Regions from separate parts of the Homo sapiens genome. Here regions 1 and 3 are each linked to region 2. The links come from fine-mapping of genetic effects on gene expression. A gene starts in region 2. Each other region holds a variant in brackets. All regions are shown on one strand. Distances are from middle to middle. Region 1 overlaps F2 (coagulation factor II, thrombin). Region 2 holds the start of PACSIN3 (protein kinase C and casein kinase substrate in neurons 3). Region 3 overlaps ARFGAP2 (ARF GTPase activating protein 2).

Evidence for each region. PIP is the estimated chance that this variant, and not a neighbour inherited with it, causes the effect.
Region 1: its variant is the best candidate, but not a certain one, in a credible set for the expression of PACSIN3 in fibroblasts (GTEx, PIP 0.58).
Region 3: its variant is the best candidate, but not a certain one, in a credible set for the expression of PACSIN3 in tibial artery (GTEx, PIP 0.56).

The regions. Positions count from the first base shown.
Region 1 is chr11:46,729,995-46,737,320 of GRCh38, reverse strand. All of the region lies in intron 12 of F2 (coagulation factor II, thrombin), which reads right to left. Among named protein-coding and RNA genes, the nearest start is that of F2, 14 kb to the right of the region's middle. The variant C/G (reference allele first, on the strand shown) is at 3,483.
Region 2 is chr11:47,183,070-47,190,395 of GRCh38, reverse strand. PACSIN3 (protein kinase C and casein kinase substrate in neurons 3) reads left to right here and starts at 3,962. Exons shown (of 11, transcript NM_016223.5): 1 at 3,962-4,047. RefSeq lists silencers at 3,864-3,963, 4,014-4,333 and an enhancer at 3,306-4,192.
Region 3 is chr11:47,162,851-47,170,176 of GRCh38, reverse strand. It overlaps ARFGAP2 (ARF GTPase activating protein 2), which reads left to right. Exons shown (of 16, transcript NM_032389.6): 11 at 1,926-2,054; 12 at 2,134-2,268; 13 at 3,291-3,417; 14 at 3,578-3,671; 15 at 3,791-3,909; 16 at 4,675-5,876. The coding sequence ends at 4,695. It also overlaps a transcript of CSTPP1 not described here. Among named protein-coding and RNA genes, the nearest start is that of ARFGAP2, 10 kb to the left of the region's middle. The variant C/T (reference allele first, on the strand shown) is at 4,179.

The sequences.
Region 1 (7,326 bases), 450 kb after region 2:
AATATAAAAAAATTAGCCGGGCATGGTGGCGTGCACCTGTAACCCCAGCTACTGGGGAGGCTGAGGCAGGAGAATCACTTGAACCCAGGAGGTGGAGGTTGCAGTGAGCTGAGATCACGCCACTGCACTCCAGCCTGGGCGACAGAGTGAGACTCCATCTCAAAAAAAAGAAAAATAATAGGCCTAATAATTTCATAAATCAAATCCCTAGATATTTGTTTTGAGAAAACCGGCAAGCCATTAACTAATTTACTCAAGAAAAATAAGATATTACAAATACATAAAATAAGATACCAATAGAAAAAATTATAAGAGAATACATTGCAGCAGTCAAGAAAGATACAATAATAGACTTGAGCAAATAGGAAAACGTTTCTTATCCTTGGATAAAATGACTCAACATCAAAAATATGTCCATTCTCCCAGTTAATTTGTTGAAGTGTCATAATCCCAATAAAATTACCACCAAGCTTTTTTATAGACCTAGGCATGTTGACACTAAAGTTCATATGGAAAAACAAACATGCAAGAATTGCCAGGAAACCACTGGAAAGAAAAACTAAAAGAGAACATTAGCCTTCCCAGCTATGTACGCTAAAGCCTCTATCATTAAAACAATGTGACGCTGTACACAGACAGACAACAGACCAGGAAAGCCGAGTCGAACATCCAGAAACATACTCATCCTTAAGCATACTCTATCCATAGAAATCTAGAACGTGGGGCTGGGCACCGTGGCTCATGCTGGTAATCCCAACACTTTGGGAGGCCAAGGCAGGAGGATCACTTGAGCCCAGGAGTTCGAGACCAGCCTAGGTAACATAGCAAGACCCCGTCTCTACAAATCAAATCAAATTAGCTGGATGCAGGAAAAAATAAAACTAAAAAATAAAACCTAGGTCAGGTATGGTGGCTCACGTCTGTAATCCCAGCAGTTTGGGAGGCCAAGGCGGGAGACTTGCTCGAGCCCAGCCAGGAGTTTGAAATCAGCCTGGGCAGCACAGGGAGACTTGTCTATATTTCAAATAAATAAATGAAAATAAGATACAATCTAGAATGTGATAAAGGTGAAATCTCAAATCACTAGTTCAAAGATTGATTGATTGATTGATTGATTTTGAGATAGAGTCTCGCTCTGTTGCCAGGCTGGAGTGCAGTGGCACCATCTCGGCTCACTGCAACCTCCTCCTCCCAGGTTCAAGTGATTCCCCTGCCTCAGCCTCCCAAGTAGCTGGGATTACAGGCGCACACCACCATGCCAGGCTAATTTTTTGTATTTTAGTAGAGATGGGGTTTCACCATGTCGGCCAGGCTTGTCTCAAACTCCTGACCTTGTGATCCACCCACCTCGGCCTCCCAAAGTGCTGGGATTACAGGTGTGAGCCACCGCACCTGGCGAAACGGAGTTTTTACTCTTGTTGCCCAGGCTGGAGTGCAATGGAGGGATCTCAGCTCACTGCAACCTCCGTCTCCCAGGTTCAAGCGATTCTCCTGCCTCAGCCTCCCGAGTAGCTGGGATTACAGACATGTGCCTCCATGTCTGGCTAATTTTGTATTTTTAGCAGAGACAGGGTTTTTCCATGTTGGTCAGGCTGGTCTTGAACTCCTGACCTCAGGTGATCCGCTCGCCTCGGCCTCCCAAAGTGCTAGGATTACAGGCGTGAGCCACCGCGCCCAGCCGATTTTTTTTTTTTAATAGAAACAGGGTCTCACTCTGTTGCCCAGGCTGGAGTGCAATGGTGCGGTCATAGCTCACTGCAGTATTGAACTCCTAGGCTCAAGCAATCCTCCTAACTCAGCCTCTCAAGTAGCTGAGACTACAAGGCACATGCCACCATGCCCAGCTAATTTTTAAAATATTTTCTTTTTCCTTTTTTTTTTGAGATGGAGTCTTGCTCTGTCGCCAGGCTGGAGTTCAATGGCGTGATCTCAGCTCACTGCAACCTCCACCTCCTGGGTTCAAATGATTCCCCTGCCTCAGCCTCCTGAGTAGCTGGTACTACAGGCATGCGCCACCACACCCAGCTAATTTTTTGTATTTTAGTAGAGACGAGGGTTTCACCATGTTGGCCAGGATGGTCTCTATCTCCTGACCTCATGATCCACCTGCCTCAGCCTCCCAAAGTGCTGGGATTATAGGCGTGAGCCACCACACCTGACCAATATTTTCTTGTAGAGACAGGGTCTTGCTATGTTGTCTGGGCTGGTTTTGAATTCCTGGCCTCAAGCAATCCTGCCTCAGCCTTCCAAACTGCTGGGATTACAGGTGTGAGCTACCGCACTTGGCCAATAATTTTTAATAAAGGGTTTAGAGACAGCTAGTTAGCCATTTGGAAAATAATAAATTAGATCTATGCCTCACATCAGATACAAAAATAAACTCCATATGAGTCAGGAATCTAAGTGCAGAAAAATGAAATCAGGTACTAGAAGAAAACATGAGTGAATTCCTCAATGACCTAGCTATCAGGAAAGGCTTTTCTGTTGTTGTTTTTTGTCGTTTTGTTTTTGAGACAGAGTCTTGCTCTGTCACCCAGGCTGGAGTGCAGCGGCACGATCTCTGCTCACTGCAACCTCCGCCTCCCAGGTTCAAGCAATTCTCCAGCCTCAGTCTCCTGAGTAGCTGGGACTACAGGCATCAGCCACCACGCCCAGCTAATTTTTGTATTTTTAGTAGAGACAGGGTTTCACCATGTTGGCCAGGCTGGTCTTGAACTTCTGACCTCAGGTGATCCCCCACCTCAGCCTCTCAGAGTGCTGGGATTACAGGTGTAAGACACCACACCTGGCCAGGAAAAGTTTATCTCTGATTCAAAATCCAGATTTAATAAAATAAATGATTGATAAATTTGACTACCTAGTAATTTTTTAAACTGCATGGCCAGAAAAATTATACATGAGGTTAAAAAAACTGACAAACTAGGAGAAAACATTTGCAATGTATATCACAAATAAAGGCCTAATATAAATACGAAGAACTCACAAAAATTGATAAGAAAGGGACCAAAAAATGGGCAAAAAACCATGAAGAGACAATTCACAAAAAAATTATATAATACAAATACTAGCCAGGCACGCACCTGTGGAACCAGCTACTCGGGAGGCTGAGGCAGGAGAATCACTTGAACCAGGGAAGTGGAGGCTGCAGTGAGCCAAGATTGCACCATTGCACTCCAGCCTGGGTGACAAAGCAAGACTCTGTCTCAAAAAAAAAATTATATAAAAATGGTCCTTAGGCCAGGCGTGGTGGCTCATGCCTGTAATCTCAGCACTTTGGGAGGCCGAGGCGGGAGGATCACAAGGTAAGGAGTTCGAGACCAGCCTGGCCAATCTGGTAAAACCCTGTCTCTACTAAAAATACAAAAATTAGCGGGCATGGTGACTCGCGCCTGGAGTCCCAGCTGCTTGGGAGGCTGAAGCAGGAGAATCGCTTGAACCCAGAAGGCGGAAGTTGCAGTGAGCCAAAATCGTGCCATTGCACT[C/G]CAGCCTAGGTGACAGAGGGAGACTCCATCTCAAAAAAAAAAAAAAAAAAAAAAAAGGTCCTTAATCATATGATACGATGTTCAACCTCATTTTCAATTTGAAAGATGTCCGTTAAAACAATTTCAAGATACTATTTCTCACCTCTCAGATTGGTAAAAATTTAAAACTGTGACATTCTTTTGGCAAGGTTGTGGGGAAACAGGCATTCTCATACACTGTGATGGAAATGCAAACTGGTACAACCCTTATGGAAAGAAATTTAAAAATCTCTAAAAAATGACATACATGTTTGCCTTTTGACCTAACAACACCACTTCTAAAAATTTACTAGGAGAGGCCAGGCATGGTGGCTCACACCTGTAATCCTAGCACTTTGGGAGGCTGAGTTGGATGGATCACTTGAGCTCAGAGTTCAAGACCTGTCTGGGCAACACAGTGAGACCCAGTCTCTACAAAAAATACAAAAATTAGCTGGGCATGGTGGTGTGTGCCTGTAGCCCTGGCTACTCGGGAGGCTAAAGTGGGAGGCTGGCTTGAGTCCAGGAGGCAGAGGTTGCAGTGGGCTGAGCCCAGCCATAGGATTGGTTTTAATAGTGTTATGGATGGAGGATTTTGAAACTATATTCTAGTATTGTTCAAATAGGCAAATGCATTACAGATAATGAGGGTCAGGTTTCTCACTGTCAACAGAGAGAGTTACAAATATGGAAAAGGAAAAGCTAAAATTAATCCTGTGGTGTTAGAATGGAATTGGAGGTTTCAGTAGGAACTCATGGTTTTTTATATAGATGATAGAGATATTGGTATATGCATCATATAATTTTTTTCTGGTTCTGTCCACTAAGAGAGCCTAGAAGTAATGACATCCCACTAGCAATGTGCACACGCCAGCACCCAGATCTCAGTTCTAAATTCCACTCTTGACTACAAGGGTTCCCTGGAGAAATGGCTGGTTCCAACACTACAGTAAGGAAAGTAGGATTAACCTGAATCATTTTGCTGTGCCAGAAAGAAAGAAAGTACTCAAAGAATGACAGAACATCTCCCCAAGTCACAGAAGCCAGCTTGAAGGGACTTCCACAGGCCAAACTTGGGATCATCTGAGCATCAGAAAAAATAACAGTAGTAACAAAGTATGGCCTGGCACGGTAGAGCTCACGCCTATAATCCCAGAACCTTGGAAGGCTGAGGCGGGCGGATCACCTGAGGTCAGGAGTTCGAGACCAGCCTGGCCAACATGGTGAAACCCTGTCTCTACTAAAAATACAAAAAATTAGCCAGGCGTGGTGGCACATGCCTGTAATCCCAGCTACTCAGGAGGCTGAGGCAGGAGAATTGCTTGAACCTGGGAGGAGGACGTTGCAGTGAGCCGAGATCACGCCATTGCACTCCATCCAGCCTGGGCAACATGGGCGAAACTCCATCTCAAAAAAAAAGAAAAAAAAAGGTGAACCCTTAGAATAAAGTAAGGATCCTTAAGTCCACACTGATAGAATGAAAGGAAGGAAAGCAATAAAGTAACTAACAAATGTAGAAGGAATGACAGAATTAGATAAGTGCCATTTGGTAGTCACCCTAGTTGGGAGAAGGTTTTGATGCAAACAGAATACAAAATATCAAAGTAGGCCAGGCGTATTGGCTCACACCTGTAATCCCAGCACTTTGGGAGGCTGAGGCAGACGGATCACAAGGTCAGGAGTTCGAGACCATCCTGGCCAACATGGTGAAACCCCATCTCTACTAAAAATACAAAAATTAGCTGGGTGTGGTGGCACATGCCTGTAATCCCTGCTACTTGGGAGGCTGAGGCAGGAGAATCACTTGAACCTGGGGGATGGAGGTTGCAGTGAGCCGAGATCGCACCACACACTCCAGCCCGGGTGATAGAGGGAGACTCCATCACAAAAAAAAAAAAAAAAAAAAAACATCAAAGTGTCTCTTTACCAGATTCTTATTAATTACAAAGGGAAAAACAGAAGTTACAGCAAGAAACTTGGCAGACATTGCCTTCCTCAAGAGGTCAGAGTTAGACTCACCACATATGAGACAAATTGTTCTCATGTGCCAGTTAACAGGATGCACCAAGAAGGACATGGCACCACTGAGCCCGAACCTGACCGTGAGGAAACCTTAGACAAACCCGGATTCAGGGCCAGTGTACAAAATAACCAGACTGCACTCATCAGACATGTCAAGGTCATAGAAGACAAAGAAAGATCCTTCATTGAATCCTGGGTGAGAAACACGCTTTTTTTTTTTTTTTTCCCTATAAAAGACATTAGCAAGACTAACAAAAATTTGAATAAGGTCTATAGATTAGACAATAATATTGTATCATCATTAATTTCCTGGTTTTGGGCCAGGTGCTGTGGCTCACGCCTGTAATCCCAGCACTTTGGGAAGCCGAGGTGGGTGGATTACCCGAGGTCAGGAGTTCAAGACCAGCCTGGCCAACATGGTGAAACCCCATCACTACTAAAAATACTAAAAATACAAAAAGTTAGCCGGGCGTGGTGGCAGGCACCTGTAATTCCAAGTAAGCCGAGACCATGCCACTGCACTCTAGCCTGGGCAACAGAGCAAGATTCCATCTCAAAAAAAAAAAAAAATTTCCTGGTTTTGGCCGAGTACAGTGGTTCACGCCTGTAATCCCAGCACTTTGGGAGGCCGAGGCAGGTGGATCACCTGAGGTCAGGAGTTCAAGACCAGCCTGGCCAACATGGTGAAACCCTGTCTCTACTACAAATACAAAAATTAGCTAGGCATGGTAGTACATGCCTGTGATTCCAGCTACTCAGGAGGCTGAGGCAGGAGAATCACTTGAACCTGGGAGCAGGAGGTTGCAGTGAGCCGAGATTGTGCCACTGCACTCAAGCCTGGGTGACAGCGAAGCTATGTCAAAAAAAAATTTCCGGGTTTTAATATTTGTATTGTGGTTGCATAAGAGAACATCCTTGGGTATTTTTTTTTTTTTTGGAAATACTCAAGTATTTATGGGTAAAAAGAAACCATATTCATGATTTGCTCTCAAACTATGCATATATATATATAAAAATTCCCACACATCCACAGAATGGAGGACAATCTGGATGACAGTATACAGGAAATCTTTGTATTATTTTTACAACTTTTCTGTGAGTCTGAAATTACACTAAATTTTTTTATTTTTTACTTTTAAAGTCAGTCACATCATTTCTTAACCTGCCTCAAGCCCCTCAATAACTTCCCATCTCACTCAATAAAGTCCTTCCAGGCCCTAAAGGAAGTGGCTGTCCTCTGCCTGCCCCCCTCTCTCCCCTCACCCACTGCTGCCCCTCCTCAGCCCCCCAGGCCTCCCTACTGCTCCCCAGACAAGCCAAGAGTGCTCCCACCTCAGGGCCTTAGTGCCTGCCATGCCCCCAGCCTGCGGTGCTCCTCCCCTAGATATGCCTGCTCACTCCTTCCTTCCCCTCTTCCAGTCCCTGCCCAGACATCACCTTCTCAGGGAGGCCTTCTCCAACCTTCTCTGGCCACCTGATTGATTGATTGATCGATCGATCAATGGAGTCTTGCTGTGTTGCCCAGCTGGAGTGCAATGATGCCCGATCTCAGCTCACTGCAACCTCCGCCTCCCTGGCTCAAGCAATTCTCCTGCCTCAGCCTCCTGAGTAGCTGCGACTACAGGCATGCGTCACCATGACCAGCTAATTTTTGTATTTTTAGTAGAGACGGGGTTTCACCATGTTGGCCAGGCTGGTCTTGAACTCCTGACCTCAAGTGATCTGCCCACCTTGTCTGGCCACCCTATTTAGAAGCCCACTTCATCAGCCGTTCTCTCTCCCTGTGCTTCATTTTTCTTCACAG
Region 2 (7,326 bases):
GCGGGTGGATCATGAGGTCAGGAGTTTGAGCCCAGCCTGACCAACATGGTGAAACCCCGTCTCTACTAAAAATACAAAAATTAGCCAGGCGTGGTGGCACGTGCCTGTAATCCCAGCTACTCAGGAGGCTGAGGCAGGAGAATCGCTTGAACCCGGGAGGTGGAGGTTGCAGTGAGCTGAGATTGCGCCATTACACTCCAGCCTGGGCGACAGAGCAAGACGCCGTCTCGAAAAAAAAAAAAAAAGAATATGTCTCTCTCTACCTTGTTCTTTTTTTTTTTTTTTTTTTTTTTTTGGTTTGTTTTTGTTTGAGATGGAGTTTTGCTCTCGCTTCCCAGGCTGGAGTGCAATGGCGCAATCTCAGCTCACTGCAACCTCCGCCTCCTGGGTTCAAGCGATTCTCCTGTCTCAGCTTCCCAAGTAGCTGGGACTAAAGGCACACGCCACCACACCTGGCTAATTTTTGTATTTTTAGTAGAGAAGGGGTTTCACTTTGTTGGCCAGGCTGGTCTCGAACTCCTGCCTCTAGCTTGTTCTTGAGTTTTTGCAGAGTAATCCACAGCATGAATGAACTTTAGGTTGTTCAACTATTGCCTTCATGATGAACATTTGTTTTCAGTTCTCCCCTGTTGCAAACAGTACTATATGCAAACATCATTGTACCTCTTTCTGCATTTGTACATGTTCGTCCAGGGTAAATACCAAAAAGTAGAATTGCTAGGTCACAAAGTCATATGGTAACACCCCTGGGGCTTGGCACACCCTGAAGCTCCTGCCTAGAATGCCTGTCCACGTGACTAATTCCTACTCATCAAGACCTATCAGTGTCATGTCCTGTGAAAGGCCGTCCCTTCTGCCTGTTTTCTCTCAATACTTCCTATCTGCCTTGCATCATTACGGTACACTTGGACTCTGCCTTATTTAACTTTGTACTCCCAACATTCCTAGCATAGCCTTAGCATGGAGTAAAAACTCAAGTGTTTTCTTGGCTGGGTGAATGAATGCATAAATAAACAAATGAAGGCACAGTGGTTAGGATATTCCAGAAACTCAAGGTGAGTCTGTGAGTGGCGTGAAATCTGGCTATGGACCAATCTGCCCATTGGTACCCTGAGCCAAATGCCTTGCTAGATTTGTCTTTTTTTCTTTTTGAGAGAAAGTTTCCTTCGACCAGGCTGGAGAGCAGTGGCGCAATCTCAGCTACCTAAGCCTCCCGGGTTCAAGCAATTCTCCTGTCTCAGCCTCCCAAGTAGCTGGGACTACAGGCGTCCACGACCACGCCTGCTAGTTTTTTTGTGTTTTTAGTAGAGATGGGGTTTCATTATTGGCCAGGCTGGTCTTGAACTCCTGACCTCAGGTGATCCACCTGCCTCAGCCTCACAAAGTGCTGGCATTACAGGCGTGAGCCACTGTGCCCAGCCTTAGATTTCTGTCATTTTTTTTCTTTTTCTTTTTGAGATGGAGTTTTGTTCTTGTCGCCCAGGCTGGAGTGCAATGGCACGATCTCAGCTCACTGCAACCTCCACCTCCCAGGTTCAAGCGATTCTCCTGCCTCAGCCTCCTAAGTAGCTGGGATTACAGGCACCCGCCACCATGCCCAGCTAATTTTTGTATTTTTAGTAGAGATGGGGTTTCACCATGTTGGCCAGGCTGGTCTCAAACTCCTGACCTCAGATGATCCACCCGCCTCGGCCTCCCAAAATGCTGGGATTACAGGCGTGGGCCACCGCGCCCGACCAGATTTCTGTCTTTATGCAGCCCTCTGTCCACTGACATCTCATCTTGAACTCTGGGTTGAGGACAGCACTGATGGAGCAGTGTGGATGTTAAGGGCTCTGGCCATAGAGCGCAGAATGGGAGCCCTGGGGGTAGCATTAGCTTGGAGCTGGCTTTCCAAAGGCATGTCTGTCTACTTTCAGCTTAGAAGCAGCCCCCTATGCTCTGGGTTTTATTTTGTTGTTTTTTTTCCCCTACAGTACCTCAGGGGCAATTAAGATCAGCTGCAACATTTCTGCTTTCTGCTCCCAGACTTGAGCCCAAGGGAAGCCAGATGTTTTCCAGTCCACATCCCCTTCTCTTTGTGGTCTGATGAACAGCCCTGTTTTCTGAGTCTCTCTATGGCCTGGCTTTCCCAGATCCCACAGCCTGGCTGCCAACTTTATTTTTAATGAGGTTTTAATAGGTGGCTCCTGTAATTAATTTCATTCTTGTGTTTTCACACTTCGGTCTAGGTGCCTAAAGGCCTTCAGGCGCTAGGAGGGATGTTAACTGATTTTAAAGAATACAAAACCCTGTGGCTGTGATTTGCCATTTTCCCAGCTCCTCTGATCTGCAGTTGTTTTTTACAATCATTAATTAGCTGGGGCTCATGGCTCAGCGGAAGGTCAGCTGGTCACCTGTCATGTTTTATAGAGGTAGAAATAGAGATAAGGGACTTGTCCAAGCCCTAAGAGAGAGTGGGTGTTGAAATTGGTCTCAGAAACCACATCCCAGGTTTCAGATTCACTACTCAGCTATGATTTGCCAAACACGGCCAGAATCCTCAGGCCAAAGGTGGCGCGCCTTGGGTGCCCCACAGGTGTCTTGGGGAGGCAGTTTTACCCTTCCATTAGCACTGCCCAGCAAGTGAGCCCTCGGCAGGCAAAATTACCCCCATTCATTTTCTCCAGGTCCCTTTCCCGTTTTGTGAGCGGATTCATCTGCGTAAAGAACGCGTCAGTGATTCCTCCTGGATTTAGAAACAACATAATTTTGCTATTTTTAAAGCTGCCGTTTAAAACTCCGCGCGCACGCACTCACACTCTTCAGGGAGCTGAGGGTGGGAGGAAAAGTACGAGCTTCAGAGGGCGCAGCCAGGCGCCTCAGCTTCCCAGGGCTCAGAGCCGCGTCCCTGGGGGCGCACTCCTCTGAGAGCGCCGGGGCTCTCCGACCCGCTGCGATTCTGCGCGCCCGGGACCTTCTGCGTCCGGGACCTTCTGCGCCCGGGCGTTCGACCCCGTTGGTCCGCGCTCCCCCTGGTCTTCAAGGCTCAGGGCACCGCCGCTGGGTCACCGGGCCCAGGAGAGAGTGGGAGGGGCGGAGAGGCCGAGCAGGTGGCGATTAGGTCAGCTTCGGAACATTCTTGGACCGCTCCAGTGGATATAAATAACAGACGGAGCCGCTCTGCAAAATCTCACCCCCGGGGGAAAGCGGGGAGAGGGAAGTAGGGAGAGAGGAGGGAGAAGGGATTTATTTAGCGTGGGGTGGCATCGTGGCGATATGGAAAAATGTACCAGACTGATAAAGGGGGTGGAGGGGCGAAGGGTAAGAATGAATCGTGGTACAAAATCTGGAAATAAGAACTCGGAGCGGGAGGAGCTTAGGCCTTTTTGTCCCACCCCCACCGCGTGTTCGTCTCAGGCCTTAGAAGGCGCCCCAGATTAGCAGGGCAGCTGTGGAACGGTAGGGCACGGTTTTGGAGTCCCAGCCCTGCCTGACTAGAGGGAAATCTTGGGCAAGCCTCTGAAAAGCCCCCGAGCCTCAGTTTTTGCATCTGTACAGTGGGAATCCTAATGCTTACAAGGGGTGGTTGTGAGCCTCGCCTGAGCCAATTTCTAAACAAGCTGTGCAGCTAAAAATGTAAGGCAGTGTAATTCCCCCGGCCCCTCTCCAAGGCTGCCCGTGCCGGCCCGGTCCCTTCTTGCTCCCTCGGGTCTCCCAGGCTCTGCAACGGTCCGGGAGAGGCAAAGCCGAAATCTGGCTCCCTGCGGCACCGGGGCGCAACCCTGGGGAGCCCGCCCAGGCACTCCGCACACGGGCGAAGCAGAGAAACCTCGACCCGCGCCACAAGAGCCGCTGGTCGCCGCGATGCCTGCAGCCCCGCTGCCCCGCCGCGTGGGGTTGAGGCAGCGGCGGCCAGGAGAGGGGCGGGGCCGGGGGCCGGGGGCCGGGCTTCCCGGGGGAGGGCCCGGCGCGCTCCGGGAGGCCGCGGCGCGGGCCCAGGAGCGGCAGGACTCGGGCCGGAGCGTGGCCGGACCCCCACCCGCCGAGGGGCCCAGGGAGGACGCGGTGAGTGCCCTGGAGGGGACGCGCGGGTAGGCGGCGGCGGGTGCGGTGGCTCGAGCCCGCCCTCTCCTGCTCCGGCTTCTGAAGTTTGCAATGGAGCCGACTCCCGCCCAGGGAGCCCCCGGCCACCCCGCTCTGCGTGCCGACGGGAAGGGCCGTAGCCGCGCCGAGGGGCCGTCCCATCTGCGGTGCCGCGGGCTTCGCAATTCCGCAGGCCGCCCGGGGGAGGCGGCGCCGGCGCTGGAGGGCTGAGCCGTCTTCAGGGGCCCCTCGAGGGCCCCCGTCCGCTCGCCTCGCGCCCGCCCCGAGGCCCCAGAGGGTCCTCGCTCCCTGGCGATCCCTCGCCCTATGCAGCGAGCCCCGATTCCTGGGTCCGCTGCCCGGGGCCACCATCTGGAGCCCACGGCAAGGCCGGCCCAGGCAGGGGGCGTCCCCTCCCCTTGGCGGTGATCAGTGGCCCCACCCCCGCCAAGACCAAGTTCAACAAGTTTGGCCAAGAAGTCTAGAGCTTCGGTGGCTAGGCCTGGCCCTGCCGCTCCGCGTGGCTCCACGGGCTCCGAGTTATGCAGCTCCGGGCGGCAAGGGGTCCTGTCGAGGGGCGCGGTCCATAAGGGTTGAGGCCAGAGGCGCGTAGCCTCTGGGCGCCGAGCTCTGGAGTGGAGGCTGGGGTTCGGAGTGCGTCATCTGGAAGCAGGCACCCCGGCCGGCAGGTCGGGTTTCCAAAAGTGCCCCTTTGTTATGCCCCTCCCTGGCCCTGCCTCCTCCCGCTTTGGCTGCGCCACCCCCTCCCCCAGCCTCCTGATCTCCTGGCTGGCTCTGGCTTCTGGTTCCAGCCCCTCTAACCTCGCTGTCCCTCTTCGGACCAGCCTACTGACGCCCCCTCCCCTCCCCCCCGCTCTGTCCTCAAATCCTAGAGCTGCGGGCGCACCGGGAGGGGCTGCCCGGGAAAGAAGCCCTTGGGCGCAGCCTGTGACTCAGGTTCCAGGGATGGGCCAGGCAGAATGGCTGAGCTCCCTCCCAGGGGCAAGCCCCCAGCTTCTGGAAGAGGTTGGGGCTGGTCTGGGGCCGGGTACCTTCAGGCCTCAGGTAGGGAGACTGGGTCTTCCCTGAACCAGGGACTTCCTACCTTGGCCCGTGCAGCTGCAAGGAGACCCTGCCAAGCCCAGGAAGACCTCTCGGAGCCGAACGTGCTGGCTCCCGGGGCTGGGAAGATTGCATTACCTGCTTTCTGAGCTCTTGCCTGCGGTGGGGACTGATTTGGGTCTCTGCTGAGCTCAGGAGGCACAGGGTGCCAACCTGCTCAATGGGGGCCAAGGTGCAAGCCCTCCTTGCTTGCTTGCTGAGAGGTCAGGCTGGGGCTGTGGGGCCTGGCTGCACCCGGGGCTTGGGCCTGTGTTTGCTCTGGGAGGCCGGAGGGAGCTGTGCCAGCCCGGTACACACAGCTTGCTCTGTTCTGGGGCCAGAGAGAGGGAAGGGGTGGGGGGCAGCTCTCTGGGGAGCAGGGAACTCGGAGGCTGGAACAGGCAAGGGGCCCCAGGCTCCTGAGGCTGGACTGGGGCGGCTCCAGAGCCCTGTGATTCATGGCAGCAGCTCTCTTTCTCTCCATCGCCCTGTCAGGTCCTTTCTGGGCAGACAGGACACACTGCAGAGGGAACCAAGTGACGAGCTTGTGAGGCCCCTGGTGGGCACCTCCATTGCCTGGGTCTCCGCGGAGCCCCTAGCTCTGTCTCCTGTTAGCAGAGGGGGAAGCCCACTTGGACCAAGCATTCCCACAGCTGCTGGAGCGGGCGCGTTTCCTGCGCTCCAGGTGGACATCGCTTCTTTTCTCACTTAACTAATTATTGCTGATTCCAGCGCGTGGGGACACACAAATCAGAATCCTGGAAGCCTCTGTCGGTGACTGAAGATAGACACTGTCCTGTCAGCCACAACTCCATGGGTTATACACCCCGGCTGAAGGGTCACCCGGGGCTACAGGAGCAAGGACAGAGAAACAGGGGAAGTGACTGAGGAGAAGATGCCTTAATTGGAGGTTTGAAGGAGAAGCAGAGGTGCATGAGTTTGGAGGAAGCGCTGTGACAGCGCCCTGCTTTGGGGACAAAGGGCGCACACTGTCCTCCTGGGTCTGGCTGTGTCCCTTGGGCCTGCTCAGAGAGGAAGCGATTTCCTTCTAGGGTCTGTGAGTCAGTCAGTGCTGGGGACAGCTGAGACCCTGCCCAGAGGCAGGAGGGGAGCAGCCACATGCCACTGTGTCCTTGAGTCCCTGGGGCCATGGCTCTGGGGTTGGAATTGGCTTGCCGTCCTCTGCGATTCTAGGGAACTTTTTTTTTTTTTTTTGAGACAGTCTCACTCTGTTGCCCAGGCGGTGGTATAATCTCTGCTCACCGCAACCTCCTCCGCCTCCTAGGTTCAAGTGATTCTCATGCCTCAGCCTCCTAAGTAGCTGGGACTACAGGTTCCCGCCACCACGCCTGGCTAATTTTTATATTTTTAGTAGAGACGAGGTTCCTCCATGTTGGCCAAGCTGGTCTGGAACTCCTGACCTCAGGTGATCCACCCACCTCAGTCTCCCAAAGTGCTGAGATTACAGGCGTGAGCCACCACACCCAGCCTGGGAGACATTCTTATAGTTGGCCATCGCTTCTCACTTCCCCATGCTGCCCTGGACGCCAGGCCTTTGGAGGGCAGGCCCGGGTTGTGTGTTCCCCACGGAGCCTTGCGGGCCCTCAGTGGATGTGTGGAGTGAGATGAGTATCTTCCGTGACTGCAGGGCCCCTCGTATTTCTGGTGCGTTGCTTGGTTTGAGTTTCACACCAGCCCTGGCATGGCAGCTGAGCACACAGAGGAGTTCCATCTTAGAGGGAGCTGGGGCCTCCTTAGGAGGAGACAGTTACATACACTTGTTCGGGCTTCCTGGCCAACACAGAAGCCAGGCCTCTTGGTTCCCTTCGTGCCCTCCTCAGTACAGGGAGCTACTGGGATGTGGCCAGGCACCCTCTGACTTGGCCTCTCGGGTAACAGGGTTGTCTTGTCACTCAAGGGAAGGCAACAGAGGCCCTAGCCTGGGCAGGAGTCCTCTCATCGGCAGTTGGGGGAGTGGGGCCTTCTGCCCACCGCCCACCCCCGCCTGCCATTTAATCCCTGGCTGGATCGTGTGACCTGCCTGGCATTCTCCTCCCTGGAATCCGGCGCTTCTGACAGCAGTTGCTATATTGGGGGTGCCGGGCACCGCCCTGGACGCTCTAGGCCCCCACCCTCACCCCCGCTCTGTTCTCCTTCAAG
Region 3 (7,326 bases), 20 kb after region 2:
TATTTTTGTATTTTAGTAGAGATGGGGTTTCACCATGTTGCCCAGGCTGGTGTAAAACTACTAGCTTCAAATGATCTGCCCGCCTCGGCCTCCCACAGTACTGGGATTACCGGTGTGAGCCACGGCGCCCAGTGCTTGGATTACGGGCGTGAGCCACATCCAGCCAGAGCATAACATTTTAACTTGAAAGGACATTGGGTCTCCCTCCTTTCCCTGCTTCAGTCACATAGGAATGACTGGGTTAATAGATGACTGGGTTAAGGGATGACCAAGGGGTTAAGGCATATGAACAGTTTTTTAGCAGTGCAACAATTGTTTACTTAAACCCAACTCACCCTATTTATTTATTTGAGACAGAGTTTCAATCTCGTTGCCTAGGCTGGAGTGCAATGGTGTGATCTCAGCTCACCACAACCTCCGCCTCCGGGGTTCAAGCTATTCTCTTGCCTCAGCCTCCACACCTGGCTAATTTTGTATTTTTAGTAGAGACAGGGTTTCTCCGTCTTGGTCAGGCTGGTCTCGAACTCCCGACCTCAGGTGATCCGGCTGCCTCGGCCTCCCAAAGTGCTGGGATTACAGGTGTGAGCCACCATGCCCGGCCCAACTCAGCCCTATTGCAAAATAATCACTCCTTGGGGTTCTTCTAGCTAAAAGCTATAGATATTTTTTAATGAATTGATTTAAATCAAATTAGTCCTTAAAGTGTCCTTGTGGAGCCTGACAGAGGAATGAGAGGCATCAAGAGTTGTATTGTATTGCCTGCCAACCCTAGACCCCTTTTCTTTGAGAAACGAGACAGCAATTCTAGGTCTTAGTGCATAAGGCCAGTCTTTGTGCTTTGAGGTGCTTTTTTTTTTCTCTCTGAGACGGAGCCTCGCTCTGTTGCCCAGACTGGAGTGCAGTGGTGCGATCTCGGCTCACTGCAAGCTCCGCCCCCCAAGTTCACGTCATTCTCCTGCCTCAGCCTCCCAAGTAGCTGGGACTACAGGCACCTGCCACCATGCCCGGCTAATTTTTTTGTATTTTTAGTAGAGACGGGGTTTCACCATGTTAGCCAGGATGGTCTCGATCTCCTGACCTCGTGATCTGCCCGCCTCGGCCTCCCAAAGTGCTGGAATTACAGGTGTGAGCCACGGTGCCTGGCTTTTTTTTTTTTTAATAAAGAGTAGGATGATGAAGAACTCATTCTTTGATGCAGTTATGTTCATTTCCCTGGTGCTGGGGCATTTCTTCATCCATTCCTTTGCTTTGTGAACCCCATCAGTGAAGGATGGGGTTCATAGTGCACAAGGTAGGGAGTTGTTCAGGACAGAGACCACTGGCATCTGGTGCACAATATTAAAATTACAACACGAGCCAGGCACAGTGGCTCACGCCTATAATCCTGGCACTTTTGGAGGCCAAGGCGGGTGGATTGTCTGTACTCAGGAGTTTGAGACCAGGCTGGGCAATGTGGCGAAACCCTGTCTCTACTGAAAAAACACAAAAAATCAGCTGGGTGTGGTGACGTGCACTGTAGTCCCAGCTGCTCGGGAGGCTGAGGCACAAGAATCGCTTGAACCTGGGAGGTGGTGGTTGCAGTGAGCCAAGATTGCACCACTGGACTCCAGCCTGGGCGACAGAGTGAGAATCTGTCTCAAATAAATAAATAAAATTAAATTATAACAGGCAAACCGTCACTGGCCAGGGAACTCCTACGTGGAATAAACAAAGCTGATGTGTAAAGAATTCTGAGGTGTGCTTCACAGGTCACCACACACAGCTAGCCTTCTGTTGGGGTCTGGCCCAGCCCTGTGCTTGGGTAAGGACAGAAGGCTCTGGGTGACGCTCCGTGAAGGAGAACCCAGTTGCTGGGCATTGTCTCTTGTGCGGTGATGCTGATGCCTATCCTTTGGTCTCATGCCTGGCTCTGCTTTGCTGCGCAGCTCTGTCTCCCACTCCGTGCTGTCTGAGATGCAGGTGATTGAGCAGGAAACCCCAGTGAGTGCAAAATCCTCTCGCTCGCAGCTGGACTTGTTTGACGATGTTGGTACTTTCGCCTCTGGACCCCCAAAGTAAGGCTGTTTTCTAGCTGTAAACTTGGCTGCTGTGTTCCTCATCAGGCTTCTCTGAGCCACTCTACTGTCTCCCTAGGTACAAGGACAATCCCTTTTCCTTAGGGGAAAGCTTTGGCTCCCGCTGGGATACAGATGCTGCCTGGGGTATGGACAGGGTAGAGGAGAAGGAGCCAGAAGTGACCATCTCAAGCATCCGGCCTATTTCAGAAAGGTAGAGTGGGCTGTTTTTTCTTTTTTCTTTCTTTTTTTTTTTTAAACAAGCTGAAGGTAGAGAATTCTAAGGCAGCACTGTCTAGAAGAACTTTCTGTGTTGATGGGAATGTTCTCTGTGTTGTTTAATATGGTAGCCACTACTATGTGGCTATGAGCCCTTAAAATGTGGTTGGTGCAACTGAGCAACAATTTCTGATGTAGTTTAATTTCTGATAAACGTAAATAGCCACCAGTGGCTGGTGCCTGCCTCATTAGACAGGGCAGCAGTCAGGCTTCGGTTTGAGTTGTGCTTTGTCATCATAGAGGGCCTGGCAGCTTCTTTTGCTTGGGGTCCATTTCTCTGGCCGGAGGAGCCTGATTGTATGCTTCAGTCCTGACCTCCTTTCAGGGGTTTTATGTCTCCAGCCCCCTTCTTATTTTTTAAAACCCTACTCCATCTTAATCTGGGATCTGTTTAGTTGACATAATATCTGTGAGTTATCCCCGTATAAAATGGGAACGTAACTACTTCATAGGGTCTCCGGAAATACCTGGCCCAGTGTCCACATACTCAGCGTGAGATGAGAGCAACCATCTCCCTTTCCACACCAGGATGCTTTTGAGAGTAAAGGGGGCAGTTTGCTATTCATAGTTATGACAAGAGTAGGTATAAAGCCAGGCAGACCGACACATATGCTCATTGTAGTACTAGGCAAGTTGTCACTAGGATTAGGGTAGCAGCAGTTGTGTGGCCTCCTGAATGCTGACGAAGCTGTGTGCTTTTGGGCAGGAGCCTAGGCCACTGCAGGCTGTATTTCCACCCTGCCTAGTGCAGGTTCCTAAGCTCTCTGGGCCTTGGCCTCAATGTGGAGAAGGGTGACTCCTCACCAGGGGAGAGGGGCCCAGAGCCACAGAGCCACAGACAGAATGGGACCTGGTAACCCATCACCAAAAGGCCACTGGTGCTCTGTTTGGCCTCTGTACTCTGCCTCCCCTGATGATAATGGGAGGAGTCCGAGATATTCCACATCTTCCCCTCAGAGCCACAAACCGGAGGGAAGTGGAGAGCCGGAGCTCAGGCCTCGAGTCTAGTGAGGCGCGTCAGAAATTCGCAGGAGCCAAAGCCATCTCATCTGACATGTTCTTTGGGCGGGAGGTGGATGCAGAGGTAAGTGGGGCTGTCTGCCCTGAGGTCCGAGGCAGCAGGCAGAAGCATGAGCTTTCTCCCTGCCGCTGCTTTGGGCTTTAGCACCAGGAGGGCCTGGCCTGTGTGAGTCCTTGGGTCATCAGCCCCAAGATCCCCAGGCCTGGCCTTTTCCTCACCACAGTATGAGGCCAGGTCTCGGCTGCAGCAGCTCTCAGGCAGCAGTGCCATCAGCTCTTCAGACCTCTTTGGGGACATGGATGGAGCTCACGGAGCAGGTAGGGCCCTGGTGGGGTGGCAGGCACCAAGTGAGGCCTGGGAGCAGGGCGGGAGGGCCCTGCTGTGACTGGGAAGGGCTTCTTGCTGGGCTCTGGGTCACCCTGCTCTTGTTTTACAGGAAGTGTATCTCTGGGGAACGTGCTGCCTACAGCGGACATTGCCCAGTTTAAGCAGGGTGTCAAGTCTGTGGCTGGGAAAATGGCTGTGCTGGCCAATGGTGTGATGAATTCCTTGCAGGTGAGGCTGAAGTGGGGCCTAATGAGGAGTGCTGGGAGGTTTGCCCTTCGCCACCACATAGAGACACTGCTACTGCTCAGCCCCTCTGAGCCTTAAGAGCATTTTCGGCCGGGTGTGGTGGCTCACGCCTGTAATCCCAGCACTGGGAGGCTGAGATGGGTGGATCACTTGAGGTCAGGAGTTTGAGACCAGCCTGACCAACATGGCAAAACCCCGTCTCTACTAAAAATACAAAATTAGCTGGGCATGATGGCGTGCACCTGTAATCC[C/T]GCTACTCGGGATGCTGAGGCAGGAGAATCGCTTGAACCTGGAGGTTGTAGTGAGCTGAGATCATGCCACTGCACTCCAGTCTGGGTGACAGGAGTGAAACTCTTGTCTCAAAAAAAAAACCACAAACGAAAAAGCAAGAGTCTAGAGAGAGGCATTTTCTTGGAGGGCAGCTTCCTTCCTTTCAGCTCCGTGCCAGGGCCGGGCCTCTCCAAGATGCCTCTGTGTCTGCCATGATCTTCCCTGGCCTTGTCACCTGTACCGCTCTTTCTCTTCTCTTCCCAGCTTCTGTGAGGCCAGGCAGGGCTTCCCTGTTGTCGGGTGCCCGAGTGGCCGCTGCCCCAGCTCTCACCGTGGACTCCTGCCTCACCGGGCTGTCCAGCCCCTGCCTCCCCAGTCTTGCTGTGGGGTGCTGGGGCAGGCAGTGTGTTTGCTGGGAAGCTGCTGCAGCTTAGAGCCTCTGACTTTTTTTTTTTTTTTCTCCCCCCTCGCCCCCAGGATCGCTACGGTTCCTACTGATCCGAGCTCTGTGACTCAGGCTTACGATGGTGACGGCAACAAGAACTCCACAGTTCCCAGGCTGGGGATGCTTTGCCTTGTGGAAGCTGGGGAGGATTTGTTACTTCGTATGTGTGGTGTGTGTGTGGGGTGGCCTTTGAGGCGCTCACTCCTGTGAGGGGAATGGTCAGTACCAGCCCTTGTCCTCTGCCTGTGGACTGAGCCCTTTATTCCCTCTCACACCACCCTCCGTGTGTTAGACTCTTGTCCTTCTGTCCTGCCCCCACAGCTGCTGCTCACTTATCCTGCCATACTGGGAAAGGGGGTTCCCCCACGATGGCTTATTCTGGGTCCAGACTTTCCCCAGGTAGGGAAAGCGGAAGGTAGAAGGCTTTTTTTGCTGGCTCTAGGGTTCTTCTAGTTCGAGGCCTTGGGTCCCCATCCTCTGGAACCAGGGGGAGGCCTGGAAGGAGTTCACTGTAGACCCGTCCCATGGGGAAAGAGGCTGCGGACTTGCTGCTGCTGCTGCTGCCAGTGGCCTCTTCTGGGTGCCAGGAGAGGGGAAGGACCTTTGTCTGGGCGTTACCAAGGGCTGGAAACTTTACCTGGTACCTAAAGGTTTCATTTGGGATCAGACCGGAGACCCTTGGGTTCTCCCGTCTCACCACCCCTTTCTACAGTAAGCACTTGGAAGATTGTTTCAGGGTGTCTCAGGGTCCCTCTGTACCATCTGCTGTGGAATGCAGGACCCTCTGTGACATTCTTTATCCCTTCTTCCCCGGGTTGGTGGCCATGGAGGGTCTTGTCTGCTGTGATTCGACTCTGGATGCTGTGAGCTTGATGCTGGCCAGGGAAGCAGAGGATGTGAGAGGCAGAGGCAGGCTCCTGGGGCTGAGCTCCTTCCTCTGCATCATTCTGGGCTTGGCCTGGACAGCACCCGCCAGTGAGAGCTGTGGGCCTCACCCTCTGGCAGCTGAGCCAAGCACTGTCATTCTTGGTGCCATCTTCCCCTGCCGCACCGGCAGTCTCAGCCCAGCCCCCACCTTTGGGTTGTAGGTTGGGCTCCCAAGCAACACAGACCACTCTTCCCCTTGCCCCTCCCCCAGAGGGACTTGACTTTCTTTCTGGACTGTTTGTATTGAAACAAAGTGGTGTCAAAATAAAGCCCCTGCAGGGCCTGGCTCCCTGTTGGTCTGAGTGAAGCAGTGTCCTCTGGATCCTGCCTCCCTGCCCAGTGCCGGCCCCTGGCCTCACTCTCTGGGCTCCCACCGGTAATGGTAGGGCGTCGGTACCGAAGCTGAGGACACTCTCTCCAGGGCCTCCTGCTTCTCTCTTCTCTGAAAGCCAAAGGCCCCTGGCTCCTTGGCTCTGTGCTGCCGTGAGGTCCGGTGCAGCTTCGACCTCACCACCCTGTGGCACGCAGAGGAAAGAGCTGGCATTAGTTGGCCCTTTAACTCGCTGGCTGAGGGCGAGCGAGCAACCTCAGCAGTCCTGCCCCTTGTCACGGCAGTAGGCTTGACTGGGGATGGGTTTCAGTGGAGTTTAAGAAATATTTAACGCCGGGTACAGTGGCTCATGGCTGTCATCCCAGCACTTTGGGAGGCTGAGGCGGGTGGATCACTTGAGGCTAGGAGTTTGAAACCAGCCTGGCCAACATGGTGAGACCCCATTTCTACTAAAAATACAAAATTAGCGGGGTGGGGGCGGTGTGGTGCATGCCTGTAATCCTAGCTACTCAGGAGGCTGAAGCAGAAGTCACTTGAACCCGGGAGGCAGAGGTTGCAGTGAGACTAGATCGCGCCACTGCACCCCAGCTTGGGTGATAAAGTGAGACCCTGTCTCAAAAAAGAAAAAATTACATATATATACATACACACACATACTCTTAGACGTTAATGGGACCCTTTAAATTTAGGGAAGAAAAGGTGTGTGTTTGTGTGTAAATCCTTAGCTTGGCCACCCCTTTCTCTTGGGGGCTTCTGAAACATCTCTGTGCCACCTTAGGAGTCCTCACGGTAGTTACAGACCACTGGTCTGGGAAGTGGATGATTAGAAAGGATGGGCAGAGGGAGCCAGGGGGCTGTAAGCCAGGGATTTGCAGAGTGTAGGTTTGGGACTCATTCAGCTTTGGGATCATCTGGAATTTCTGGACTCCATCCCAAGTTGATAGAGTTAGACTCTCTGGAGCTTGGTAATTTGCATCGTCAGTAGGCTTTCCTGTGATTCTGAGGACACCAGGATTTGAGAACCATGTCTCTTATGGGCTGTGCATCATTGTGGGCCTACAGAGCTCATCACGCAGCCTGAGCTTTTTTTTTTTTTTTTTTTTAAGATGGTCTCATTCTGTCAGTCACTCAGACGGGAGTGCAGTGGCACGATCATGGCTCACTGCAGCCTCAACCTCCTGGGTTCAAGTGATCTACCTCGGGTCTCCCAAGTAGCTGGGACTACAGGTGCAAGCTACCATGCCTGGCTAAGGTTATTTTGTAGAGATAGGGTCCTACTATGTTTCCCAGGGTGGTCCTGAACTCCTGGGCTCAAGCAGTTGGCCCACCTTGGCCTCCCAAAGTGCTGGGATTACAGGCAATGAGCCACTGCATCCTGGAGCAGCTTCGGGGCTGGAATGCCTAGTCTTGGCCTCAGCTCTGCAGG